Linked DNA regions of Homo sapiens. The protein of the gene in region 1 interacts with the protein of each later gene in a pairwise test. Each region holds a gene or a part of one and is shown in the gene's direction. Other genes may lie near its edges. The genes, in order: TMEM115, CYB5R3, ASPG and MANBAL.

Region 1 (6,837 bases):
AGATGGACTGGGAGGAGGGGGAGGGTGATGCATTAATTAATGGCTTCGTTAATTAATGTCATGTTGCTTGTCGCTTTCTCAGTGTGTGTGTGTGGTCCATGCCCACTGCTGGTGCCAGGGTGGGTGTCCATGTGCACCCGGCCTGGATGCCAGCTGTGTCCTTCGGGGGCGTGCGTGTAACTGTAGTGTAGTCAGGTGCTCAATGGAGAATATAAACATATACAGAAAAATATATATTTTAAGTTTAAAAAACAGAAAAACAGACAAAACAATCCCCATCAGGTAGCTGTCTAACCCCCAGCTGGGTCTAATCCTTCTCATTACCCACCCGACCTGGCTGCCCCTCACCTTGGGCTGGGGGACTGGGGGGCCATTTCCTTTTCTCTGCCCTTTTTTTGTTGTTCTATTTTGTACAGACAAGTTGGAAAAACAACAGCGACAAAAAAGTCAAGAAACTTTGTAAAATATCGTGTGTGTGATTCCTTGTAAAATATTTTCAAATGGTTTATTACAGAAGATCAGTTATTAAATAATGTTCATATTTTCACTTCAAATGGTTCCCATCCACTGTATCAGCTTGGGGGTGAGGACTGGGTAGCTATGAAGACAGTTGGCCAAGACCTCAGAGTCCCACTTAGTGCTCTGCAGGGGGTGAAGACCATGGTAGCCCAGGTCCCTGTCAACCACAGGGCATGGCACTTGCTTCCACCAGTTATAATAGGTGCCAGGCCCTTGACATACATTGTCTCATAACATCTCAAAAAGCTGTCTTTTAAAAACAAGCAAGACAGGCTGGGTGCGGTGGCTCATGCCTGTAATCTAGCATTTTGGGAGGCCGAGGCGGGCAGATCACTTGAGGTCAGGAGTTTGAGACCAGCCTGGCCAACATGGTGAAACCCCGTCTCTACTAAAAATACAAAAAAATTAGCCAGGCATGGTGGCATGCGCCTGTAATCCCAGCTACTTAGGAGGCTGAGGCAGGATAATTGCTTGACCCCAGGAGACGGAGGTTGCAGTGAGCCAAGATTGCGCCACCGCACCCCAGCCTGGATGACCGAGCGAGACTCTTGTCTCAGAAAAAAAAAAAATACAAGCAAAACAAACACCCTCCCAGAGCCTGAAAGCCAGGACCCTGGAGGGAAGAAGACAGATCAGAGATGCTGGTTTAGTGGGGAGGTGGATCTGGCAGTCTGGTCAGACCACCAGGGCCTGACAGGGCCTCTGCCGGGAGCTATGAGTGAGCACCTGGCCAGTGTCCCTACGGCCCAGGAAGCCCTGACCACAAGTGCAGCAACGGCTCCCTCCTGGCCCACAGGAGCTTGAGGCCGCAGCTGCTTAAACTGGAGCCATAGGCCAAACTTCATTTTTGTGAATCCTCTCAAGCTTAGGCCCTAGTTCATTTTCACCCTAGAAGGTGTGACCTTTGCGATCTTCTCATGTGGAGAGAATTATAACCTGTAACCACCAGAGCACAGGTGTCCCTGCCTTCCCACCACAGTCCTCTCTCTCCTCCCAACACTCTGCTCTCTGCGCACTGACCTGGCTGAGTCCTCGCCACAGTCTCTGGGGTGGGTACTAGTGTATCCCCATACCACAGATGAGCAAACTAAGAGGAGAAAGCCTTTCCCCCCAGGTGAGAAGGCTAAAAACCAGCAAAGATTTTAGAGAAGAGGTGGCCACCAAGGGTTGGGGAGCTTGGATGCTAAATAGATGAAGGGGCTTCGAGGCCTCAGCCAAGATGGAGACTTTTTCTGTCTCCTCTGCAGGGTTCGGCTGCAGAGCAATGCCTAATCCACAACCCCCAAGACAGCTCCCATGGCCTGCAAGAGACCGTGCAATCTTGGATAGGGTTGTAAGATAAAATACAGAACACCCTATTTTGAATTTCAGATCATGAACGAGTTTTTAGTATGGAAGTGTTTCAACTATTGTGTGGGACATACCTATACTGAAAAACTGGGGGCTGGGCACAGTGGCTAACGCCTGTAATCCCAACACTTTGGGAGGCTGATGCAGGAGGATCGCTTGAGCTCACGAGTTCGAGATCAGCCTGGGTAGGATGGCCACCCCGCCCCTGCCCATGTCTCTACAAAATAAAAAAATTTTAAAAATTAGCTGGGCACAGTAGTGTGTGCCTGTAGTCGCAGCTAATCAGGAGGCTGAGGCTGGAGGATCCCTTCAGCCCAGGAGTTAGAGGTGGCAGTGAGCTATGATTGTGCCACTGCACTCCAGCCTTGGACAAAGCTAGACCCTGTCTCAAAAAAAAAAAAAAAAAAAAAAGGGGGCAGGGGGACATGATTATACTCGAAGATTACTCATTGTTTATCTGGAATTCAAATTTGACTGAGCATCCTTATTTTGATTTGCTAAAACTGGCAACCTTACCCAGATGTGGCAACCAGTGGGAACCCAGACCCCAGAAAAAAAGCATCAGCACCCTTTTTAACCTGTAGGCCATGCACACATCAGCACACACTGAAATCAGTGGCTGAAAGGAAGGGATCCTGTGTTTTATAAAAGCACTTTGTCATAGAATTATTTTAATTATATGGACAGCTTTTTGTTTTGTTTTGAGACAAAGTTTCGCTCTTGTTGCCCAGGCTGTAGTGCAATGGCATGATCTTGGCTCACCGCAACCTCCGCCTCCCGGGTTCAAGCGATTCTCCTGCCTCAGCATCCCGAGTAGATGGGATTACAGGCATGTGCCACCACACCTGGCTAATTTTGTATTTTTAGTAGAGATGAGGTTTATCCATGTTGGTCAGGCTGGTCTCAAACTCCCGACCTCAGGTGATCTGCCCGCCTCAGCCTCCCAAAGTGCTGGGATTACAGGCGTGAGCCACCGTGCCCAGCCTATATGTACAGTTTTTTAAAAGTAACTCCATATACAAAAAAAAAAAAAAGACACAGAACACAACCTGTCAGAAGTCACTGTGGCGTGAAGTGGGACCAGAACAGGCCTAGCCCAGGCTTGTGGAGAGACCTGGCTTGTAGAGAGACCTCTCATCCTCCGCAGTTATCAGAAGTCCCTGGTGGGGAGGAGGGTCACTGAGGGCTGCCCAGCCTCGTCCCTATGCGGGAGGGAGCCCTAGGTTCGTGCTCCAGGTCCACCTCACTTGGAAAAAGGGCAACGTGAAATAACAAACAAAAAACTTTTCCAAGTGGGAGAAAACAAACAAAAAAAGGCAACATGTGCAGCACTCGCTGAGCACCCAGGGTGGACTGGCATTTTACACCCCTTTCCCCTTTGATTATTAGGACAGGAAGATCATGTCATCAGCTACATTTTATGGCCCATGAAACTGAGTTTCAAAAAGGTTCAGGAACTTAACCAACCAATGCCACACAGCCTCCGAGGCAGAGCAAGGGTTCCAGCCTGGGTCAGGTCCCATTCACCAGACCACGGAGGTTCTGTTTCTCACACAGTGACACCTACCCACACGCCAGCCAACAAGGACACACTCGCTCAGAGGTACACGCACAAATAGAGCTACTCTTCCTAGGGAATTCAGCAAGTGTGGGGGCTAGAGCTGTGTTGCTTCCCGAACCCTCACCGCCGCTTTCAGGGGTTAGAGATGCTAATTCATCCCTTCCCACCTCCTGAGAACCGACGGAAACGGTCCCTGAGAACTACAACTCCCAGCACACCCCGCGCTCACCACAACGGGACCGGTCCGTGCTCATGGCCTCCTGGGACTTGTAGTTCTAGCCAGAACCCTGTTCAACTCTTCCCCGGCTGCAACCAAGGACTCCGTATCCCAGCATGCAGAGGAGCCGGAAGACAGGCGCTTAGAGGACAGCCCGCTGCCGCCGGGGACGCGCAGGCGCAGCACCCCTGTTTGTCGGCCCCCCGAGAGAAGAGGTACGGTCGAAGCCAGGAGCCAGGCCGAGCGGGAGCTGACCAGGCTTGACTCGGGTACAGAACGAGGCACCAGTCCCCTTGCGAACCGAAGGGCCTCGCAGTGGATGGAGGAGGCCCAGCCCTGAGGTCAACGCCAACCAGGCTAGCCTGGCACGGGGCCTACAGGGTGGGTAGGCGGGCGTGCCGCAGCCGTCCAGGGCCTTCCCTCAGGTCCCGGGCGAGGGGCCTACGCTGCGGCCCGGCAACAAGGCCCGACTCGGCCCCTCGGGACCAGAGCCCCACCCGATCGGAAGCGGATCCTTTACCAGGGCCATAGGCCAGTGACTAGGCCGGGCCTGGGCCTCCCATCGGGGCCGGACTAGGACGAGGCCCCGGGGAGGCCCCTGGCCTACCAGACCCTTTTCTCAGGCCGACAGCCGCCAGGAAGATGCAACGTGCCCTGCCAGGCGCCCGCCAGCACTTGGGGGCCATTCTGGCCAGCGCCAGCGTGGTGGTGAAGGCTCTGTGTGCGGCGGTACTATTCCTCTACCTGCTCTCCTTCGCCGTGGACACAGGCTGCCTGGCGGTCACCCCGGGCTACCTCTTTCCTCCCAACTTCTGGATCTGGACCCTGGCCACCCATGGGCTGATGGAGCAGCATGTGTGGGACGTGGCCATCAGCCTGACAACGGTGGTGGTGGCCGGGCGTTTGCTGGAGCCCCTCTGGGGGGCCTTGGAGCTGCTCATCTTCTTCTCAGTGGTGAATGTGTCTGTAGGGCTGCTGGGGGCCTTCGCCTACCTCCTCACCTACATGGCTTCCTTCAACCTGGTCTACCTGTTCACTGTCCGTATCCACGGCGCCTTGGGCTTCCTAGGTGGCGTCCTGGTGGCACTCAAGCAAACCATGGGGGACTGTGTGGTCCTGCGAGTGCCCCAGGTGCGCGTCAGTGTGATGCCCATGCTGCTGCTGGCGCTGCTGCTCCTGCTGCGGCTCGCCACGCTGCTCCAGAGCCCGGCGCTGGCTTCCTATGGCTTCGGGCTGCTCTCCAGTTGGGTATATCTTCGCTTCTACCAGCGCCATAGCCGGGGCCGAGGGGACATGGCTGACCACTTTGCTTTCGCCACTTTCTTCCCTGAGATCCTGCAGCCTGTGGTGGGTTTGCTGGCGAACTTGGTGCACAGCCTCCTGGTGAAGGTAAAGATATGCCAGAAGACGGTGAAGCGCTACGATGTGGGTGCCCCATCCTCCATCACCATCAGCCTGCCAGGCACAGACCCTCAAGACGCCGAGCGGAGAAGGTACTGTGAAATTTTCCAAAATCTTGTCAAGCTAGGAGCATACTGGTCGAGTCACATGCCATCTGTTGAGGTGTTCGCTGTACATAGGTGGAGACCTACAGTCAGGTATTGGGGCACATCCGGAAAGACAAAATCAGTCTTTGGCCTTAAGGAACTCAGCAGTTAGGTGTCTGGGGTCCACGAGGCACTTTTCTCACCACTCGGGCCACTTAATAAGTCTCAAGAAATGCAGTTTCCTTTGGTGCTGTGAAGTCCCAGTGGAGGGACACAGAACCCTGGCCTTGCCTCAGAATCTCAGAATCCTAGACATTGGGCCTGTGGGAGCCAGAAGCAACCTGCTGGTACTTTCCCCTGTGAGGAAGGGACAGGGAAGGAGGCCTGGGGTCCTCAAAAGGTGATCTGGGCCACTCCAATTTCCAAATGCTGTGTCCTCTTCCTGGGCTTTAACTCAGATGCTGTGCTTCTCTGCCACTTACTTATTGAGAGGGAAGCTTGGGGTATTACCACATTTACCTCTGTCTCCAGCAAGCATGTGTCACCAAAACCAGGGACAGGCTACATGACCCACTGAGGGAGCCTGCTGACACCAGGGAGTGGCGATGACCCTTTCATTATCTGTAAACCAAGCTATCCACAGCATCAGGAGTCCCAGCTGAATTATTCACTGAATGCACTTTGGCCAGGGCAGGAGGGATCTTTTTAAATTCAGCTTACTCTCTCTCCCAGATCTGTGGAGCCAGCAGAGTGGTCCCAGCCTTCATAAGATCCACAGCTCCATTTCCAACATTATTCCTCACTGTTTTGAGGCAATTACTCGAGTAGTAAAATCTGGGACGGGCTTTGTCTTTTGCATTGCCAAGGCTCCTGCTTTTGCTCACCTGTGAATGGGGTTGTGGCAGGAAGCTCTATGAATTTAGCTGCAGTTATCCCTGTATTTACTCTCCACTGGGCTATGGAATTGAGTGTGGGACACACTCCTTTCTTGAAGGAGTTCCAGCTGGGGAAGGGCCACAGATCACTATGGCCCAAGGTATGGTAGGTGTTGAAAAGTATATACAGCATGCTGCAGGGCATAATTCTGGGCCCTAGAGCTTGGGTCTTTATAGGTGATAAGCCCTAAGGACAGAAGTCTCTCTTAACCTTAGCTGGTATTAAAGATGGGGCCAGGTGAGCTGGGCCTGGTAGGAATTGAGCTGTCCCTCAGAGCCATTCAGGTGGGGCCAGGCCAGTGGGGACCCCTCCTCCACTGAGAGGTGTTGGAATGTTAGGGTTGGCTGGACATTCAAAAACCTCTGCCTAGGCCCAAGAAAATGGACAGGGGGGAAGCAGGTTGGTGGGGAGGAAGGGAGGGTCAAGAGGCGGGTTCTTGGCATAGCCTTATGGTTGTTAGCTTACATGGGGGTGGCGGTTATTCCTCCAGCCAGTTTGACATCTGACTGCATGGCCACGCCCAACTCCAAAGGGCTACCAGGAGAGGGAGGCAGGGTTTCCTATCTGTCTCTCTGGTCCTTGTGAGGAAGTGACTAGCGTAACACTAGCTCTCTGCCTTGGCAGGCTTTAGATGGAACTGGCAAGGGCATCATCAGGATGGCAGCCTGGGTAGCAGCAGGGAAAGACTGTCCTGTCTATACCAACTTGTCATGTGTGAGACTGACGGGCAGGGGGGAAGCGTGCTAGGGCTTTCTACACCTGTGCCC
Region 2 (7,024 bases), on another chromosome or scaffold:
AGCTGCGATTACAGGTGCCCGCCACCACATCCAGCTAATTCTTTATATTTTTAGTAGAGACGGGGTTTCACCATGTTGGCCAGGCTGGTCTCGAACTCATGAGCTCAAGTGATCCACCCACCTCAGCCTCCCAAAGTGCTGAGATTACAGGCATGAGCCACCATGCCTGGCCTAAAAAGAAAGTTACACATAGTTAATAGAAAAAGAAAAGTGAAAAGATGCACACAAAAATCCTAACAGTCATTATTTCTGAAGGGTTTCAGGTACTTTTTCTTCCATATTTTCTGTATTTTTTTCCTTGAGTTCATCTAGCCCAAAGCCTGTCCCTGTCCCTGTCCTCACCCCATTAGGGCAGAAAGGGCCCTCAGCCTCCCACCCTCAGAAACTGGAAAAACTGTTCAACACCCCGTGTTCCCTGGGATGTGTTGAGGCTTATGCCCCTCACACAGCTCATCTGCTGGAGGGGAGCACCAAGGAGCTGGTGATTCCCGTATTCAGGCACCCTTGGGCTACGCGGAGGGTGGGTGCAGTTCCCCAGCCCTGGGAACAGAGGAGTCACGTCTGTGGCTGCCTCCTGGGGAGAGTCCACCCCGCCCTTGCCCAGCCTGGGAGCTCAGTAGCGATTTGTTAGTGGGCAGCCCTTTCTGGGTGGCAGCGCTCTTTGGCCCCTGGTTTCTTTGAGTTCCCTGAGGTCAGGGACACTGCACACTGACCTAAGGAGCCCCTTCTGTCCCTGTGTGACCTGCAAACGCTGGGCAGCAGCCTGTGATGTGATCAGAGGTGGAACGGGGGTGGGGGGCGGGGAGTCGGGTGGGGGATTCAGGGGGAGATCCCTGATAGCCCCTGGAGGGTCCAGGAAGCTTTCCTGGAAGGGATGACGCTGGACTGAGTTCTGTAGGGCTCTGTGACAGCCGGGTGGGGGTGGGGGAGCCGCAGGCCAGCCAGGAGGATGGGTGTGGGCAAGGCCCGAGGGGGCCAGGTTGGGTGGGGAGTGGTGTCTGTACTTCCTGGTTTCTGGAGGTACAACCTGAATGAGATCCCAGAACGCAAAAAGACTTGCCGGAGGGCTGAGGGTGCAAATCCTGAGCCTTCTCACGGGGCCATTGCTTATTGTATGTGTTACACCCGCTCCCGGGCTGACCCCCTGGAGTATCTTGGCACATTTCCCGTCTCTTCCCTTTTTGCTGTCGCGCAGCTTGGCCGCCTTTAGTTTTTTCCATTTTTCCCACTCTCGGGACATCGAGCCCATTTCCTCACAACAGCAGAAGCAGTTGACACACTGAGTTTCTAGCGAACGCCTTCGCCCCTTCAGCAGCAGCTTTGAGGGGCTCCTTAGGCTAGACAAGGAGAGAGGGGTGCCAGGGTGATCTCTGGCCGAGTCCCCTCCTGAAAGCTCCGCAAGCGTGTGGCCCGCAGGCGGGCGCGATGACGAGGCGCGTCTCTGTTGAGTGTCTCCAGGGGCAGTCTGCCACCCATCCTTCCTGACTGCCTGGCCCTGTCCCCTGCAGACCGAGAAGGACATCCTGCTGCGACCTGAGCTGGAGGAACTCAGGAACAAACATTCTGCACGCTTCAAGCTCTGGTACACGCTGGACAGAGCCCCTGAAGGTGAGTGAGGGAGGCCCCTCACTGGGTGGGTGGGAGGTGCCAGCCCACAGTTCACCTTTGCCCAGCTGTTTGTGGCGTTGAGCCTTTGGACGACATCTGGCACTCACTATGGCCCTGTGGGAGGCAGGTGGTGTGGCCCCGTCTCACAGATGAGGAACAAGGGCTCACTGAAGCCACACAGCCGGAAACCACCACAGCCCGGCCTGAAACCCAGGTCCTCGCCTCCAGAGGCAGAGTCCTTTCCCGGGCGCACTGCACTGCCCAGCTGGGCAGAGAAGGCCAGCGTCCCCTCCCTGGGCGGGGCTCACTTCGGGGCAAGTCTCGGGGCAGCGGTGGCGGCTGCTGCTTCCACATCCCAGCGTGCATACTCTCAGGTGCTGCCGAGTTACACCAAGGCCATCTTCTCTCCCATTGTCAGCCCTGGGGAGTGGGCTGGGCCGACGTTGGGGTTACCCTTGTTCCACCTGTCCAGTGGCTGAGCTGCTTGCCAAGGGAGTTGTGGGAGAGCCAAGCTGGAGGCAGCGAGTGAGGGCCGCCCCACCTCCACCACTTGCAGTGAGGTTGCCTCTGGGAGTTAAAGCGCCCTTCCCTTTTCGGCTTCAGATAGAGATGTAGGTATAAGTAATATCTCAATTTCTTCTTTGCTGTAAGAAAAGCAGAGCTCAGCCTTCCCCAGGAAACATTCTGGTGATGTTTAGCTTCAGGGCTGAGAGACTAGGGAGTGGCGGCAACTGCGGTAAATTGGAGCGCATCTGCCTGGTCCGGAGGACACAGCCCCATCCGCCGTGGGCAATCCCGCTGTGGAGTATAGCCCTGTGTGGCCAGGGCCTCTGCTTTTCAAGAGAAGCTGGGGACCTGCATTTTCTGGGAAATTTCTAAGTGTTGGAAGCACCATTTTTGAATACCCGTGTGAGCACCAGTTTGGGGTCTCATGTCCTGCCATCTGCCCCTGCTTTGCCTCCGGCACCTCCTACGGCCCCACAGTTTCCTCAGGACTAATCCATGGTGGGGGGCGCACACCCTCTGCTGATGATCCATGTCAGGGGGTGCATGCCCTCTACTGATGAGGGAGCTCTGTCCACACCACCCTCTGCTCCTCCCAGAAAGGAGCACATGGGCTCTGGGACTTGCACCACCTGGCTAGCACCTAGGAGCTGGGTCACCTGGGCCCATCCCTGAGGGAGCAGCCGCCCTTCTCAGATGACCAGCTTGGGTTCCAGGCCTCCAGGCTGAGAGACCCAGGCCTGGAGGGGGTGGTGGATGTGTGGGTTGTCACCGTGTCCGGCCTCTGGCTGGACCTGCTGTCCTGGGTCAGCCCACCCCCTCCAGGTCGGCTGCTCCACCTGGTATGCTCAGGAAGCCAACCTGACCCCGCAGCTGACCTTCCAGTGGGGGAGGCAGAGGACTAATGGGAGCAGGTTTCTTAGTAAATTATAGCGCGGTTATGGTGGCGGGGTTCCTGTGATGTGGGGGGCCAAGCAGAGCCAGGCAGCGGCTGGAGCGGAGGTCAGCCAGGGCACTGGCTCTGGGAGTCTAGCTGCTGTTTCTCTTCTACTAACGAAAGGAGCAGGCCGGGCGCGGTGGCTCACGTCTGTAATCCCAGCACTTTGGGAGGCCGAGGCAGGCAGATCATGAGGTCAAGAGATCGAGACCATCCTGGCCAACATGGTGAAACTCTGTCTCTACTAAAAATACAAAAATTAGCTGGGCGTGTGTCGCGTGCCTGTAGTCCCAGCTACTCGGAGGCTGAGGCAGGAGAATGGCTTGAACCCGGGAGGCAGAGGTTGCAATGAGCCGAGATGGTGCCACTGCACTCCAGCCTGGCGATAGAGCGAGACTCCGTCTCAAAGAAAAGAGCGTTTTATCCTGTACCCATGTGTCAGTCTAAAGGGAGGAAGTGATAGGCTGCTTTGCTCCTTTCTGACTGCAGTTTCTAATGGCATGGGCGGGGCCAGCTTGCTGCGAGGCAGGGTTTAGCCCCATCCCAATTCCAGATGAGTGATCCAGATCCCTGGTGCGTGCAGGAGCCCCTGCCCTGTGGCCAGAGCGAGGCCTGGTCCCCCAGGGAGGGGCCAGTGCTGACCCCTGGTGGCAACAGGCAGCAGCACCTGCACCACCACCACGGGACAGTTACCTGCCAATGAGAGGAATAGTTGGGTGATCTCCTAGCATTTTTCGTGTACATTTGTTGCCACTGTGACCCACAATTCAAGATTAGTTGAGGTACTGCTGTAGCATTAAATGTAAGCTGAAATTCCAGAGGTTGAGAAAGAAAGTGGTAACAGGCCAGTCTGGCTGTACCGTAGCTAAGCGAAGGATGAGGAGAGCCCCAAGGACTCCAGGCAGGGGCAGTGAGTATTTCCCCCACAGAGCCACTTTCAGGACAGGTACAGGGAAAAATACATTAAGCCATGCACGGTGGCATGCACCTGTAGTCCCAGCTATTCAAAGCTAAGGCAAGAGGATCACATGAGCCCAGGAGCTCCAGGCTGGAGGGCATTATGATCACACCTGTGAATAGCCACTGCCTGCCAGCTGGGGCAACATAGCCAATTCCTGTCTCTTAAAAACACACACACACACACACACACACACACACACACACTAAAAAGAAATCGCTGTGAAATTGAAAGGTGTCTTACATACCTGCACATTTTGTACACTAGCAGTTTATGCCCATGCAGTTTTTACAAGGTACTTTCAGATCCACTTCAGATCCATTGCCCAGCTATAAAACTATTTTCTGTGCCTCGCCTTGTTCCAGAGGGATTTTAGGAGGCTTACAAAGACTCATCTGGTGAGTCAGAGTGGCACAAATGGAAAGTGGGAGTGAAAGAAAAACAAGTGCAGGGCTATAAAATGAATGGAATCAGTACTGGGATTTGTACAAAAACGGACTATAATGTACGCTTGCTGTGAATGGGCCACACGTATCACTCCAGGCTTCCCAGCAGCCAAGGTGAAAAGGGAAATGTGGTCAGTGACTTAGCTCATGGAGTCCATGAGATAAAGAGGACCCCCTTGCTCAGCACAGTAGACTCTTCCTGGTTCCAGGGCAAGCGGGACTGCTTTGGCCCCTCCCCGTCAGGACCTTCACAGCGTGGAGTGTATGCTGTAAACTTGGGCCATCTAGGCAGGGTGTCTGTGTCAGCCAGTGCCAGCCCTCCTGGCCTGAGGCTTCAGCAGCTTTTCTCTTGGTGTTGAGGGCTGTGGGGTGGTTGTTTCTGGTTACTAAGGATAGAGACCAGCCATATCATCGTGGGCGCTCAGGGCTCGAGGGGGCAGGACACACAGCTGTGGATGAGACTCAGTTCCTCATGGGCCGACATTCTTGGGGAGTCACAGTGGGCTCATGGAGGTGGGGGCAGTTAGAGACTGTCACCCTGAGCAGCCTGGGGCAGAGCACCAGCCTGGGGACCTCTGGATCCTGGAAGGTACATCTCAGTCGTGTCCCTGCCTCATTGTGTGATCTTGAGCAACTCAACTCTGGGTCCTCTGGGCCTCAGTTGCCACATCTGTAAAATGGGATTCATATTCCCCGCCCTGTCCACCCACTGGGTTGTTCCAAGGGACACCCCGGAGGCCAAATGGAAGCAAAAGGCTTTGCAAACTGTAAAGTGCAGTCAGGGGAACCATGATGGGCTTTGTACACTGGTTTCAGGCTGCAGGGCCTGAGGCCATAGGCTTGAGTCAGGGTTGGGGGCAGGGGGTCCTGGTGACAGTTTGCTGGGATCAGCCTCTCCATTCTTCAGCATTTAAGGAATTCACCGCCTAGGGTTGGTCGGTCAGCAGGTTGGTGACCACACAGCCACACGTCAGCTTACCTGGTCTCTCACCCCACAGCCTGGGACTACGGCCAGGGCTTCGTGAATGAGGAGATGATCCGGGACCACCTTCCACCCCCAGAGGAGGAGCCGCTGGTGCTGATGTGTGGCCCCCCACCCATGATCCAGTACGCCTGCCTTCCCAACCTGGACCACGTGGGCCACCCCACGGAGCGCTGCTTCGTCTTCTGAGGGCCGGGCACGGTCACACGGCCACCCGCCCCGCGCACCCCACGCCCTGTTCACGCTCACCCAGTCACCTCCCCACATCGCACACTGGGGCCCCGGGTTCAGCCTGGCCTGCCCGTGCCCTGGTGAATCACCTGGCTGAGCAGTTCCCCTGGAGCCCCTTCGGGAGCAGGGCTGTGTCCCAGATGGGCCACGGCTGAGCCTTCAGAGTACGTCCTGCCTGGCACTTACTGGTCCTTACCAGAGACGCCCAGCCCCATCCCTGTCCTCATGACCCCTCGTCCACCCCCCACACACACTATAAGGCTGAGGGCTGCCAGCAGCCCCGTCTGCCCACCATTCCCGGCCGTGGACCATAGTCGGGATGTCAGCAGACACACATGGGCAGCCCAAAGCTGCAGGTGCCAGGGCCCACCCCAGCCTCGCCTGTCACCCCCACTCCCGCCTCAGGGCCAGGCCCAGGCCTCACCACCTGACGCTGCATGAGACATTGACACCAGAAAGCCCTCTTGGGGGCACTGCTCCCTACCCCAGGGCCCTGGCCAGCCGGGAGCTTGGCTCTCCTCTGGCTAGAGTGGGAAGAGGGGGCTGGCCATGGGGCCCTCCCAGAACCTCAGCATTTCCTTCCAGCCCATCCAAACACTGAGGCAGCCTTGGGGAACCCCGAGCTGGGGGGTTGGCAGCCCACTGCACCGCCTCAGGGTTTTGGGGTCCTGGGCTGGGGCCACCATCCCTGATGGCAGAACTCCCACAACCACATGTATTTATTCCTCTGTCCTAAACCGTCCCCTCCTTCCCTCACCCCCAGCACAGGGGGATTCTGAGCAGTGCCTCTTGTCTGAGGGACATATCAGTGACCTCGACGTTGCCTTTAGACTACAGTTGTGTTAGCCTCTTGCGTATTGGCTTTTTCAGAGTCATTTATGAGCAGAAAAAAAAAAAGTAAAACTTTGCTAATATTAACCCTTCTCTAGCTCCTCGAGGGTCTGTGACCTGCAACACAAGGGGTGGGGTCAGGAAAGGGCTGGGGAAGACCTAGCATTTTTTTTTTCTTTTTTTTTTTTTTTTGAGACGGAGTCTCCCTTTGTCACCCAGGCTGGAGTGGCATGATCTCAGCTCACTACAACCTCCACCTCTCGGGTTCAAGCGATTCTCCTGCCTCAGCCTCCCGAGTAGCTGGGACTAAAAGTGCCCACCACCACACCCAGCTAGTTTTTGTATTTTTTTTTTTTTTTTTTTGAGACGGAGTCTCGCTCTGTCGCCCAGGCTGGAGTGCAGTGGCGGGATCTCGGCTCACTGCAAGCTCCGCCTCCCGGGTTCACGCCATTCTCCTGCCTCAGCCTCCCAAGTAGCTGGGACTACAGGCGCCCGCCACTACGCCCGGCTAATTTTTTGTATTTTTA
Region 3 (7,116 bases), on another chromosome or scaffold:
TGCAGAAAAGACAGGCAGGGCTGCAGAAAAGGTAGGCAGGGCTGTAGGGTGGTCCGGACCACCGGGCACTGTCAAATGGCAGATGTCCCTCCGCTCTGCTCTGGGTGGGGCTGGGGCCGGAGTGGATTTTATAAACACTCTGGGAGGGTCCCACCCAGAACTCTCCTGCGCTGTGTGGAAGGAGGGCCACTGGGGAGGGTGTAGATGGGAAGTGAGAGAGAAGAGGGGACGAGGAGACCCCTGGGTGGCCAAGGAAACACTTTTCTGAACAATCAAAAATAAAGGAGGGGCAGGCAGAACGTGGGGACTTGGCTGGGGCTGCCTAGGTTCCCTGGACTCACCTCCTGGCACTACACTGCCTGGGGAGCCAGGGGGCCAGGAGCCAGGGAGCGACTGGCACACCCCACACCTTCCTAACCCAGCCCCTGGTGGGGAGCCCTTCCTTCAGCAGCAGGCAGCACAGCGATGGCCAAGTGTCCCTCCAGGGGGACAGACGTTTGCCCCTCCACGCCACTCACCCGGGGTGAGGCCGCAGCACCCTCCACCTTGCTCCACCGTGGCCAGCTTCTGGCCTCCCCTCACCAAGCCCCGGGACTTCACGTGAAGATCACTTACTGGCCTTCTCCCCTCGCGGTCCTGGGTTCTCTCCTCCTCCTGGCCTCTGAGGCCAGAATGCTGAGGCTCAGACTAGGGCCTTTGTCTCTGCTGACACCTCGCTGCTGTCACGACTTTGTGGTCCCTGTGCCACTGACTGCAGGACGCGCAGCTGAGTCTCCTTGGACCTGCCCAGGTGGCCCCCAAGCAGGATGTGTCCAACACACCTTGCTTCCCTCTGCCTGGCCCCAGGCCCCACTCTGGCCCCTGCTTTCTCAGTAAGGACATCCCCACTCCGTGGCTGCTCTGGCCAAAGACAGGAGAGTCACCCTTTCTCTTCGGCGCGTACCCCTCAAGCTCCAGCTTGTGCTCCCAGCACTCCCACCTTGCACTTCCCCATCCCCAGCTCCTCCCCACCCTGCCCAAAGCCCTCCTGAACCCATTCTTGTCTCAGTCTCCGCACATAGCAGCCAGAGATTAAAACAAACCAGCCCAACCCTCGGTGGGGCTGGTGTTCACCTTTGGGGTTAAATTGAAAGTCCTTGCGTGGCACCACAGTCACTCAGCGGGCATCCCCTCCCTCTGAGTGCTCTCGCCCCACTGACCTGGGCACTGTGGGGCCATGCTCACTCCTGCCTCGGGCCTCAGCACCTGTCCCTTCCTGGCAGCCTGTCCCGCCTGGCATGCTGGCTTTGCTCCAATGCCAACCCTTCGGAGAGGCCTTCCCTGGCCACCCTGTTGTAAACAGCACTGCCTGTCTCCGTGTTCCCTGAGTGTTCCTCCAGGCACTGTCACTGCCAGACGCTGGTATTTTTGTCTACTATGGCCCCCACCCTGGCTGGTACACTCAGAAGGACGGGCTGCGTCCCCTGTGCCTAGAGAGGCATCTGGCACAGAGCCAGCCTTCAACATATATTGCATGAAAGATTCCGTCCAAGGACGCTGTAGATGTAGGTGGACGCAGACAAAAGCAAAGCAGGACAGTGGATTCGTCCAAAGACCGGCAGTGTCTTCAGGTGAAGCTGCAGCGTCGAGTCCTGGTGCTTGCAAGGTTTCAGCAGCAGAAACCTGATGGGGCTCCTTGCACCTGGGAGAAAAGCCACTCCAGTGAGGATTATTGCCAGTGAAGGCTGCCCTGGCCCCAGACAAGTTTTCCTAGAATTTATGGTAGCAGGCGGGTTGTTAAAGGATGATTCCCGAAAGGGCCAGACATGGTGCTCACAGGGATGCAGGGTGAGCATGCGTCGAAGAGCTTCCCTAGCCCAGGCAGCTGTGAGGACCAGCTCAGAAGAGAAGTCCTGAAACAGACACTTACAGATGAGGAATATTGACATGATTGTGCAAATGGACCTGAAACTGGATTTTCAGGGGGCTGTGATGGGCTGGATTGTCTCCCTTAGATTCTAATGTTCAAGTCCCCCACACCCCAGTGTCTTAGAATGCAACTGTATTTGGAGGTAGACTTTAAAGAGATGGTTGAATTAAAATGAGGCCCCAAATTCAATCTGACTGGTATGTCTATAAAAAGAGAAAGTCTGGACATCTGGAGATACATCAGGGATGCGTGACTGCTCAGAGGAAAGACCCTGTGAGGCACAGCAAGAAGGCACCATCTGCTTGCCCAGGAGACACCAACCTGTGACACCCTGACCTTAGACTTCCACCCCCAAGAACTGTGAGAGGTAGACCTCCTTGCACTGTAAATCACTCGTTCTGTTACTGCAGTCCCAGAAAACTAACACAGACCTTTGCTGGGCAGAATGCCTTTGCTTCTCTGCAGACAAGATTACTTTTGCACTATTGCACTGTTGTTATCAAAATAATTATATGGGGCTGGGCATGGCGGCTCACACCTGTAATCCCAACACTTAGGGAGGCTGAGGTGGGTGGAGTACCTGAGGTCAGGAGTTCAAGACCAGCCTGGCCAACATGGTGAAACCCCGTCTCTACTAAAAATACAAAAAAAAAAAAAGAAAAAAAAATTAGCCTGGTGTGGTGTGCACCTGCAATCCCAGCTATTCGGGGAGGGGGCTGAGACAAGACAATTGCTTGAACCTGGGAGGCACAGGTTGCAGTGAGCCAAGATCTTGCTACTGCCCTCCAGGCAACAGAATAATAATAATTTTTATTATGGAATCAGTGTCAAATGCTGGTGCCTTCTGGGGGCAACACACAGTTTCCCACCAAAGTGCATCAGTGCCCCAGGCAGTCAAGGTGCCAGGAGACGAGGAGGCCGCGGATCTTCTGTCCACCTGGGAGCAAGCCTGCAGCTTGGGACCCTCCTGGGACCCTGCACCCGCCAGTGCCCTGCCCTCCTGGGCTCTCATGGGAGTGAAGGAGGGTGGGCTCTGTAGGAGTTAAAGAAAGAGGAAAGAAACATGAAAAGCGGCTCAACAAAGGCAGGTTTATTTTGGAGAATAAACCTGAAAGGGACTTCTGGCCGATTTTGGTCAGGAGCCATCTCTCCTACAGACTAAGGATCTTTAAGGGTTTAGGAAGTGGGGAGCTTATCGCAGGCTCGGAATGTTTCTATGTGAGGGAAAGTTTATTGCGGGCTTGGAATGTCTCTGGTCGGAGGGGAGGTTATCTCGAGGTTGGCATGTTTCTGATTGGAGATGTTATTTGTGGTTTACGGTCGTGCTGACATTAGCTATTGGGCTGATGTGTTTTGGGCTGGATTTAGGCAGCTTTTTAATCAAAGGGAACCTAAAATGGCGGTGTTTGTCCAAGAAGGCCATACTCCTGCTCTGTCCCGCTCCAGCCCTTGGGGGCCCCTCGGGCTCTTCTCTTGGATGGTGTGTGAATGGGCACATGTGGAGGGGCTGGTCCAGCTCTGCCTGCCTCTGGCCATCCAAAGGAGGGACAGCAGGGCCTGGGCAGCAATGCCGGCCTTGGAGCCCCGGGGCTGTGGAGGCTGCTTGACAGGACACGGAGCCCCCTCTGTGCTCAGGTCGTGGAGGGCCTCGGGCACTACGGTCTGCCAGGCACCACATGTCACAGCTACTCAAACACCCAGGGCCGCCACGGAGGGCCAATGGCCGCAGGATGGCTCAGGACCCGCCCCACCCCTGTCGCTGCCTTTCTGGCTGCCCCCTAGTCCCTGGACAGGCGCTCCCCAGCCCCAAGCAGGCCCCAGCCAATCTCCTGCCCAGGCAGGAGCTCCCCCTGCCGCCCTCACAGACCTCACCTCTTCCTACACGTTTCCAAGGCCGCGCCCCGCCCCGCACCCCGCCAGGCCCCGCCCCGCACCCCGCCAGGCCCCGCCCCGCACCCCGCCAGGCCCCGCCCCGCACCCCGCCAGGCCCCGCCCCCACCCCGCCAGGCCCCGCCTCTCTCTCCGACCCTGGACAGTCCCCGGGACCCACCCCGCCCCCAGGTCCTGCCCCCGCCCGCCTCCGCGGGGCCTCCCACCCTCCCGGGCAGACTCCACTCCCGCCCCCTCCCCGTGGGTGCCCCCGCCGGCCCCGCCCTCCCAGGCTGCCCCCGGCGCCCCGGGCCTCCTCCGCGCAGTCCCTGAGTCCCGCAGGCCCTGCGTCCCCGCTGCACACCCCCGTCCACTCCCGTGGTCCCCGGTCCGGCATGGCGCGCGCGGTGGGGCCCGAGCGGAGGCTGCTGGCCGTCTACACCGGCGGCACCATTGGCATGCGGAGTGAGCTCGGCGGTGAGTCCGAGACCCTGGGCGGGGTAGGCCTCTGGACCTGGCCGCGACCGGGAGCCTCGGACCCTCCTGCACCCACGGGGGTCGTTGGGGAGTCAAATCCGCGCCTGGATGGGGGGTGCGGGCTGAGGTCGCTCTCCTCCGGTTCCGGCCACCGGCGTCCCCACGCATGGAGCCCCGACCTGGACAGAGGAGATTGCGGTGGGTTCTCGCCGTCGCGGTGCTCCCGGGAGCGCCCTGCGACCCTGGGGCCAGGCCCCCTGTGCTGCCGCTGCGCCCCTGAGGGCCAGCGTCCTGAAGTCCTGGAATATGGGGCGGGAGGGCCCCAGGGCATTGGCCTGCCGCTCCTGCTCTGGACACAGAAGGCTTAGGAGGCTGCCCTGGAGAAGGCTTAGGAGGCTGCGAGGACCCCTCAACTGCGACACCCAGGAGGGTGTCCCCGTCCCCTGGGGTCCTGGTCAGGCAGCAGTGGTTGGCACGATACTGGGGCTACCTGGCATCTGCGGGGACGCACGTGTTCACACCCGAGGTGGCCTCAGAGCCCTGCTTCCTCTGCCCCTGTGTGGACCTGGTTGACCAGAGACCAGCGATTGCGTCTGGACTGAGTTCTGCCTGGGTGGGGTCAGGGCCTGGGACAGGCACCGAGCTCTGTGGTACTCCAGCACAGTGCTGCCAGCCTGGGCTGGGCACAGGAAGGATGGTAGCTTGGGGAGCCTGAGGCCACCGGGATGGGGAGAGGACGGTTGCACTGGAGCCTCCAGAATGCCTGGGTGTTCCCCAGGAGGGCAGGACACTGCCTGGGGCCCCCAGATGGGCTCTGCTGTGATGTGGGGCCTCCCTTGGGGCCAGGACAGCCCCCTCGCCCCGTCTTGAACCTGTTTGCGACCCTCCATGGGCCACTGCCTGCCTTTCCCTCAGGAGCCCTTTCCACTCCTCCTCCTCCCACTCCCTGCTGCCCTGGCCCCTCCCCACACTCCTGCTTGTGTCCAGCGCAGCTCTCTCTCCTGGGACGGCTGGGACCCTCTCCGGCTCTGCCAGAGCCCAGGGCCTCCCCTGGCATGACCAGAACATTCTCTTGTCCCTTGCCCATCTGCCAACCACTTCCCCGCCCCTCCTATCCCCACCCCCTCTCACGGCCTGTTCCCTGGCAGCTGCCCCTCCTGGCCACCCCTTTCTGCTGAAGTGGCTGCTCAGAAGCCACCAGCACTCTGTCGGTGCTCTCAGATTCCACCCACCACACTGTGGCCGGTGCAGACCCCTCTGGAGGCCCACTCTGCGCCCAGCCCAGGAGACAAAGCCTAGTGGGGCTCGTCCACGAGGGACTCAGGTCCCCAAGAACGTGGCTGTCCAGGCTGCCGGGAGCCTCCTCTGCACTTCTCCTTCTGCCTGTGAATGGAACAAAGTCATTCACAGCTTGGCAAACGCCCCTGTGTGACACTCCACTGACACAGAGTGACACAATTCCTGTGCTTGGCCCTCACAAGCTAGAGAGAGAGGCTGCCATTGAAGGGATGGCATGCATTAAGGAGCTAGTCCCAGGGGCAGGATCTGCCAGGGCCCTGTAGGGGCTGTGGGCTGATAACAGGGTCTGAGCTGGGTGTGTGGATGGTGTGGAGTTTGGAGGCAGCCCAGGGAGGGCTTCTCTGAGGACACAAGGCCTGCAGGACAAAGATGGGAGAGGGCCAGGCCAGGAGCAGCCCTGCAAGGTGCAGGAAAGAGGAGTGGGGAGCCCAGCAGGGCCGGAGCCTGCCAGAGCTGCCCCCGAGTGGGGACAGGACCTGGGGACTCTGTGTGGGGCCTCGTCCGACGCCCCTGACGCTACCCCTTCAGGCTTGGAGTGTGGCCAACTGCAGTTTCGTTGAGCTCAACATGTAGTTCTTGAGTGGTCCGAGCTGCAGGGGCAGGTGGACTCTGTAACCCCACCACACACCCGTCTCGCTTGGCCCCCGCGTGCTCGCCGCAGCAGCCTGTGGGTGCACTCACACGCGTGCACCGCATTTCTGAAAGAGGCTGTGAGGTCCTGTGTCTGGGTGGGAAACAAGAGACTTGGAGGCTGGAAATTGGGTGTGGGGCGTCAGTCTTCAGACCTGAAGCAGCCTTCTGAGATCCCTTGGTGCTCTGTGCACTGGGGTCCTGGCTTCTGCTCAGCAGCCCGTCCTCGTGTGGCTGCGAGGTCACCCCCAGCTGTTGCTAGCTGACCCATGTGGGGCATCCACTTCCAGGAACCTGCAGGAATGGGCTCCCCCAACCCCTCGTGAGGTTGGAGCAGCCAGACTGTCAGGCGTCAATGATTTACTCCCTCCACACTGCTGACGTGGGCTCTGGCCTTCCCTGGGGAGGTGAGAGGGGAGTGGTGGCTTTGCCCTAGTAAAGCTGTTTGATTGTCGCTGTTGGAACGGCTTCTGCGCCTGCTGGTAAACAGTGACCTGTGGGTGGAACGCTGCACACCTGGAGCCCTGCCAGAGTTCAGGGAGGGCAGAGGTGATGCCAGTGGGGACGCCCCTTGACCCATCCCTTCTCTGAGTTCATTGAAGCTATCACAGGTCAAGGGGCATAGCGAATCCAAACACGGCTGATAACCCCAAGCCCAAGCTGGCATCAGTGGCCACGTTCTGTACACCCGAGAAACTTGAAGACTTCCTATGTCAAACTGGGAACCCCACCTGCTTGCCGGCCTGTCCCAAAGTCCCTCCTGAGCCCGGCTCCTTGCAGGCACAGCAGGGAGGGCAGAGATCTGGGGCCAGGCAGCTGAGAGAAGCTCCCTGCCCGGTGACCACACGGGTCCCAGCAGTCGAGAGTGTCAGTGGAGTGATGCCCATGGCTTCTTGGTTACTGCAGTGGCGTCTGTGCCCTTGGCCTGGACC
Region 4 (7,124 bases), on another chromosome or scaffold:
AAGAAAGAAAGAAGGAAGGGAGGGAGGGAGGGAGGCAGGATGGGTGGTATTGGGGCTGAGCCCTATGGAAAGAGAATGAACCTGTCTTGTGGAGAGCCAGAAGACAGCATTCTAGACAGAGAGACCGACAAAGGCAATGGTTTGAAGGTGGAAAAGCAAATGTCGTACCTCTACTTTCCCTTTTCCACATCCAAATCCAGCCCATCATTCGGGACCCACATTGAGCTGCCTCCCTCACGAGGCCTTCCTAGATACTTCGGCGCGTGCTGATCCTGCCCCTCTTCCTAGAGCTTTCATGTGTGTACACTCATCTGACATGCACAGGTCAGCTGGGTAGTGCAAAGGTTATGCATGCAGACTCTGCGAGGCCTTAGGGAAGCTGCTTAACTTTTCCAGCCTTAGGTTTCTTCACCTGTAATGCCTACTTTATAGGGTGCTGGGGGAGAATATTGATACGTGTAAAGTGCTTGGCACCTTTACACATATGAATATGCAATAAACAGCAGCTACAATTAATACAAAACTGGCTCACTCAGTCAAGTGTGACTCCAAGAAAATATTTTTCAGAGAAGAGGCTACGGCTTTTTTGGCTTTTTCTTCTTCATTGTGCAATCACTGTGCCTTGCATAGATATTAGGCATAGAAATAAGCCTGCCACAAAGCTCTCCTCCGTGCTGTGGTGCTCATGGAGCCATGCAGGGCACAGAGACAGCAAAACTCAGCTGGAGGCCTCTAAGAGCTTCTAGAGAGTGAGCAAGTAGCTGTGCCTGTCATTGTGCCTGCAGCAGTCACTTGGGCGATCTTTTACATTTGGATACAGAGAGTAACAGGTTTCAAAGCACCTGCACACCTGGATTAGTATGCTGGGGCTGCTCTAACAAAGGACCACAAACTGAATGGTTTAAACAACAGATATTTACTTTTTCCCAGTTCTAGGGACTAGGAATCTGAAATCAAAGCGTCAGTGGCACCTTCTGAGGGCTGTGAGGAGCCTGTCCCATGCCTCTTGACTAGCTTCTGGTGGCCTGCTGGCAATCTGTGGTGTTCCTTGGCTGTAGAGGCATCGTCCCGATATCTGCCTTCATCTTCACATGACGTTCTCTCTATGTGTGCATCTGTGTCCATGTTCCCCCTCATTTAAAATAAACTATTTCCTTTTTTAGAGACAGGGTCTTGCTCTACCACCCAGGCTGGAGTGCAGAGGTGCGATCATAACTCACTTCAGCCTCCAACTCCTGAGCTCAAGCGATCCTCTCATCTCAGCCTCCTAAAGTGCTGGGACTACAGGCAAGAGCCATCGCGCCCTGTCAAAATTTCCCCTTTTTATAAGTACAGCAGTCATACTGGATTAGGGACTACCCTAACACTCTCATTTTAACTTGATTACCTTTGTAAAGCTCCTATCTCCAAATAAGATCCCATTGTGAGGTACTGGGGGTTACGGCTCAAACACAGCTTTTTGGAGGGACACAATTCAACCCAGAAAACACTCTCCTCACTCACACCCTGCAGTGTGTCTCTCCAGGGCAAGTAGTAAGTCCTGTCCTAAACATCTGCACCCTGCAGGCCTCAGTGTCACCCCCTCAGCTATTCTTAGGCTCCAAGCCGTTTCTCACTACCCAGCCTTTCCACCACCCATCGTGCTTTTTCCTCCTTCTCTTTGCCTGGCAAAGTCCTCCTCATTCTTCATTTCTTTTTTTGAGATGGAGTATTGCTTTGTTGCCCAGGCTGGAATGCAGTGGTGCGACCTCGGCTCACTGCAACCTCTGCCTCCTAGGTTCAAGCAATTGTCCTGCCTCAGCCTCTCAAGTAGCTGAGACTACAGGTGCACACCACCATGCCTGGCTAATTTTTTGGGTATTTTTTGTAGAGACGGGGTTTCGCCATGTTGCCCAGGCTGATCTCAAACTCCTGGGCTCAAGCAATCTGTCCACCTTAGCTTCCCAAAGTGCTGGGATTATAGACGTGAGCCACCACTCTTCATTTCTTACCAGAAATGTGATCTCATGGACGTCTTCCCTCATCACCTCTCTTTTGATTGTATCTCCCATGTTATTGCTTCTCTCATGGCTCCCCCTTCTTCCTTCCCAACACATCTCATGGTTTTTAAGTGTACATTTATCTGTGTGATTGATTAGTGGGGGTGACAGACATTGACCCCTAGTCTATAAGCACAGTCAGGGTAGGATCCCACCTACTCACCATTGTCTTCCCAGTTTCATAGTGCATGATCCAGAGTAGAAACTCCATAAATATTTTTTAAATGAATAAATTATGCATTTTGGGTCCCCCATGCCACCTCACATAGTATGGGATTAGTGAATGTTGAGTGTATTATTTGTCTTCTAAGAGACTGAATTCCTTTAGGGCAAGATAGGTCTCTCTCTCTCTCTTTTTTTTTTTTGGAGTCTCTGGTATCTAACCTCTGTTCCTTGATCCTCTATGTATGTTATCTAGGCTGCATAACCAATTATCCTAAAACTTAGGAGCTTAAAACAATAACATTTAGTATTTCACAATTTCTGTGAGGCAGGCATTCAAGTGGCATTGCAAGGTATTTCTGGCTCAAGGTTGCTCTTGAGTTTACACTGAAGATTTTGGCCAGGCCACAGTCATTTGAAAGCTTGACTAGGACTGCTGGAGCCACTTGGCTCATACACATGGCTGGCAAGTTGGAGCTGGTTGTTGGCAGGCAGCTCAGTTACTCCCCATGCGAGCCTCTCCATAGGACTGCTTGAGTGTCTTCACAACATGGATTCCCCATGAGCAATCAAGACAGAGGAAAGAGGAAGTTGCAATGTCTTTTATGACTTTATCTTGGAACTCGTGCTCCAAGATTTCCGCAATATCCTATGGGTTATACAGGTCAGTCTTATTCTTGGTGGGAGGTGACTACAGAGGGGTATGGATATCAGGAGCCAAGAATCGTCAGGGTTTATGGTGGAGGCTGGTTATCACACTCTCATCTAGGTTTCTTTTTCTCCTACTACTTGCCCCCCACCCCTTCTTAATCATGGAACACTGTTCTTTGCCTTCAAAAAACTTATCCTGTTATATGATTACACATTCATTTAATTAGTCTGTCTCCCTCCAACGGACTGTAAGCACCACAAGGGCAGAGACTGTATGTGTCTGCTTTAGCACTGTGTCCTCAGTTACAAGGACAAAGCATAGAGTACGCGCTCAGTGAATGCTTTTTGAATGAATTATAATGATTTGCTTCTGTCTGAATTACAAGAGGTGTTTCTGTTTGTCTCCTCTCTGCATTGTAGGCTCCTAGCTCAGGACCTGGCATAAAATTAAGGAAATGAACGTGAGAAACACTTTTGAAATAGTGACAACACATCCAGATGAACATTTTGCAGGACAGCTACACACCCGTTTTAGCTCACCAGCTACCAGTTGTGACTGTGCTCTGCTCTGGGAGATGGCTTAGCTTTGCATAGGACAAAATTCTAATCTAGTTTCGCGCAGTTCTTACGAATTTGTTACAATGAGACGGGCCAAGCTATACAGCCCATTGCGATGAATAAGTAACTTTTTTTTTTTTTTTTTTTTTTTTTTGAGGAAGAGTCTCATTCTGTCGCCCAGGCTGGAGTGCAGTGGCGCGATCTCGGCTCACTGCAACTTCTGCCTCCCGGGATTCAAGAGATTCTCTTGCCTCAGCCTCCCAAGCAGCTGGGATTACAGGCGCCCGCCACCACGCCCGGCTAATTTTTGTATTTTTGGTAGAGACGGGGTTTCACCATGTTGACCAGGCTGGTCTCGAACTCCTGACCTCAAGTGATCCGTCCGCCTCGGCCTCCCAAAGTGCTGGGATTACAGGCGTGAGCCACCGTGCCCAGCCCCGAGAAGTAATTTCTTTTGTTTTCTTTTTAATTAAACAAAAATGTTGCTGAAACGAGCTGAGTGATATAGGAGCTTAAAGAATTGACAAGCTCTAGATTTCATTTCCCCAAACCTCTTTGTCCAGCTCGAACCCACAGAACAGGGACAAAAGTCGACAAAACCCAGCGGTGCCTCACCCAGAAACCTGGCAACGCGGGCGGAACAGAGCCGGTTGGTTGCTCAGTGCGCGTCACTTCCGGGACTCAGGGTCGCAGGGAACTACTTCCGGGGGAGCGGCGCGGCGGCGCGGGAGGTGAGTGCCGCAGCTTTGCGGTGGGGTGGGAACCGAGAGAGAGCCGTCCTCGGTGCGGTGGCCTGGCTTTCCCGGCCGGCCTGTCTCCAGCGGCGCCGCTTGGTGGGCCCGGCTGTCGCTCCGCTCAGGGCCTGAATACGTTCCCTCGGCGGTTGTTCGAAAGTTACTTCCGGAGGGGAATTTGAGCCCCCCGGGAGGCGGAGGGCCTCGCCTGGGGCAGCCCTGCGCTTTCGTGCGGAGGCTGGGCCAGAACCCAGGGCTCCTCATGGCCTGGTCCGGGCCTTTCCTCCCACGGGTGGAGCAGTAGGAGAACCCTGAGCTCCAGAGTGAATCTGGCCAGGGTTCGAATCCGTATGGCTCTCTTACCGTGGGCAAGTCACGGTTCCTCTCTGGCCCTCAGTTTCGTCTTCTAAAATGGACATACACGCTTGTACTGCGGGGTAAACCGAGGTGGTGAATGTAAAGCCCTTAGTAGGTGCACAGTCCATGTTTGTTGTACGAATTCTAAGAGAAGCGAGAAATGAATATGAGAAACATTTTTAAAATGGTGACAACACATTTAGATTAATAATTATATTTTGCAGGGCATCTGCACACCAGTTTCAGCCCACCGGCTACCAGTGTGACTTTGCCCAGAGAGGTGGCTTAGCTTTGCATTCTAATCTAGTTTTGCGTGGTTCTTAGGAATTTGTTTTAATGGGACGGGCCAGGCTGTACAACCCATTGCCATAAAGCGGTAACTTCTTTTTCTTTCCTTTTTTTTTTTTTAAAGCCATTCTATTTATTTATTTAGAGACGGAGTCTCTCTCTCGTCCACGCTGAAGGGCAGTGGCGGGATCTTGGCTCACTGCAACCTCCGCTTCTTGGGTTCAAGCGATTCTCCTGCCTCAGCTTTCCGAATAGCTGGGATTACAGACGTGTGCCACCACGCCCGGCTAATTTTTGTATCTTTAGTAAAGACAGGGTTTCACCATGTTGGCCAGGCTGGTCTCAAACTCCCGACCTCAGGTGATCCACCCGCCTCGGCCTCCCAGAGTGTTGGGATTATAGGCGGGAGCCACCACACCCGGCTTTTTTTTCTTTTTAATTAAAAAAAAGTTGAAATAGAGATGGAGTCTCACTATGTTTTCCTGCCTGGTCTTGAACTCCTGGAGGCAAGATATCCTTCCTCCTGGACCTCCCAAAGTGTTTGGGATTACTGGCAAGAGCCACTGTGCCTGGCCTAAAACAGTAACTTCTGACACTGGTTTCTATTCCCCAGTCTGTTTTCAGCTGAATTTTCACAATAGAATTTAAAGTTACTTCATTAGAAGCCAAGAATGGCCTACCAGCACAGTACACAACATTGGGAGATGAAGGCCTGTGGCAGTCGTGAAATCTGAGTTTTTCAGTCTTAAGAGAAGATTTAGTATTTGCTAAGTCTTGAGAGCTATACTTGTCTCAGTGGTTTTTTATTTATTTGTTTTGAAATGTTGACCCATTCTTTTTTTCCCCAATAACCTTTTTGTTTTAGAATAATTTTAGATTTACAAAGTTATCGCAAAGATACTTCAGTGAGTGCCCATATAGCCCACGTTTCCCCTATTACTAATATCTGAAATGTCACAATTACTGAACCAATATTGATACATTATTATTAACTCTAATCTGTACTTTATTCACATTTCCTTAGTTTTTCCCTAATGTCCTTTTTCTGTCCTGGTATTATCCAGGGCACCCTATTACATTTAGTCATCATATCTCTTTAGGCTCATCATCTCTGTGATCGTTTCTCAGACTTCCCTTGTTTTAGATGAACTTGAGGGTTTTGAAGATAGTACTGACTGGTCAGATATTTTGCAGAAGGACCTTTAATTAGGATTTGCCTGTTTTTGACATGAGTAAGATCAGGGTAATGGGTTTTTGGGGAGGAGGACCACTGATAGGGTTCGGCTGTGTCCCCACCCAAATCTCATCTTGAATTGTAGCTCCCATAATCCCCCCATGTTGTGGGAGGGTCCTGGTGGGAGACAATTGAATCATGGGGGTGGGTCTTTCCCATGCTATTCTCCTGATAGTGAATAAGTCTCAGGAGATCTGATGGTTTTATAAAGGGCAGTTCCCCTGCACACACTCTCTTGCCTGCTGTCACATAAGACATGCCCTTGCCTCCCCTTTGCCTTTTGCCGTGATTGTGAGGCCTACCCACCCATGTGGAACCGTGAGTCCGTTAAACCTCTTTTTCTTTATTAATTACCCAGTCTCGGGTATTTCTTCAAAGTGGTATGAAAATGGACTAATCCAACCACAGAAGTAAAGTGCTATTCTCATCACATCATATCAAGGGTACATACTATCGATATGAGTTATCATTGTTGACATCTGTTAGCTTGAGCCACCTGGCTTGAGGTAGTAGTCAGGCTTTTCCAGTGTAGAGTTACTTTTCCTCCTGCACTTTCCGCACTGTACTTTTGGAGAAAGTCATTATGTACAGCACACATTTAAGGAGTGTGGAATTATGCCCCATGCTTAAAGGCAGAGTATATAATGCAAATTATTTGGAGTTCTCTGTGGGAAATTTGTCTGTTCCCCTATTTTTTGCTTACAGAGTCATATATTTGTATCGGTGTGAACTCATGGATTTGTTTTGTTTTGAGACAGGGTCTCCCGCTGTCGCCCAGGCTGGAGTGCAGTGGTGCAGTCTTGGCTCACTGCAACCTCCACCTCCCGGGTTTAAGTGATTCTCCTGCCTCAGCCTCCTGAGTAGCTGGGATTACAGGCACCTACCACCATGGCTGGCTAATTTTTGTATTTTTAGTAGAGAGAGTTTCACCATGTTGGCCAGGCTGGTCTTGAACTCTTGACCTCAGGTGATCCACCTGCCTTGGCCTCCTGATTACAGGAATCCCCTCTCCTGGGATTACAGGCGTGAGCCACCATGCCGGGCCTGAACTCATGGATGTTTATTTTATACTTTGGACCAGAATCCAGTACTACTTTATTT

Evidence for each region.
Region 2: the proteins of TMEM115 (region 1) and CYB5R3 interact in binary tests that used the Homo sapiens proteins (3 or more experiments, as listed by UniProt).
Region 3: the proteins of TMEM115 (region 1) and ASPG interact in binary tests that used the Homo sapiens proteins (3 or more experiments, as listed by UniProt).
Region 4: the proteins of TMEM115 (region 1) and MANBAL interact in binary tests that used the Homo sapiens proteins (3 or more experiments, as listed by UniProt).

Annotation. Positions count from the first base shown.
Region 1 is NC_000003.12:50,356,516-50,363,352, reverse strand, and holds the start of TMEM115 (transmembrane protein 115), read left to right. Parts: upstream 1-3,831; 5' UTR 3,832-4,289; coding exon 4,290-5,140; exon of another isoform or gene 5,141-5,235; intron 5,236-6,837. UniProt on the Homo sapiens protein: May play a role in retrograde transport of proteins from the Golgi to the endoplasmic reticulum. May indirectly play a role in protein glycosylation in the Golgi.
Region 2 is NC_000022.11:42,618,373-42,625,396, reverse strand, and holds part of CYB5R3 (NADH-cytochrome b5 reductase 3), read left to right. Parts: intron 1-1,508; coding exon 1,509-1,608; intron 1,609-5,451; coding exon 5,452-5,624; 3' UTR 5,625-7,024. UniProt on the Homo sapiens protein: Catalyzes the reduction of two molecules of cytochrome b5 using NADH as the electron donor.
Region 3 is NC_000014.9:104,081,598-104,088,713, forward strand, and holds the start of ASPG (60 kDa lysophospholipase), read left to right. Parts: upstream 1-4,102; 5' UTR 4,103-4,173; coding exon 4,174-4,255; intron 4,256-7,116. Other genes in the region: uncharacterized protein LOC124903408, read left to right, coding at 1-31, 1,263-1,338. UniProt on the Homo sapiens protein: Exhibits lysophospholipase, transacylase, PAF acetylhydrolase and asparaginase activities.
Region 4 is NC_000020.11:37,285,546-37,292,669, forward strand, and holds the start of MANBAL (protein MANBAL), read left to right. Parts: upstream 1-4,109; 5' UTR 4,110-4,141; intron 4,142-4,723; exon of another isoform or gene 4,724-4,781; intron 4,782-7,124.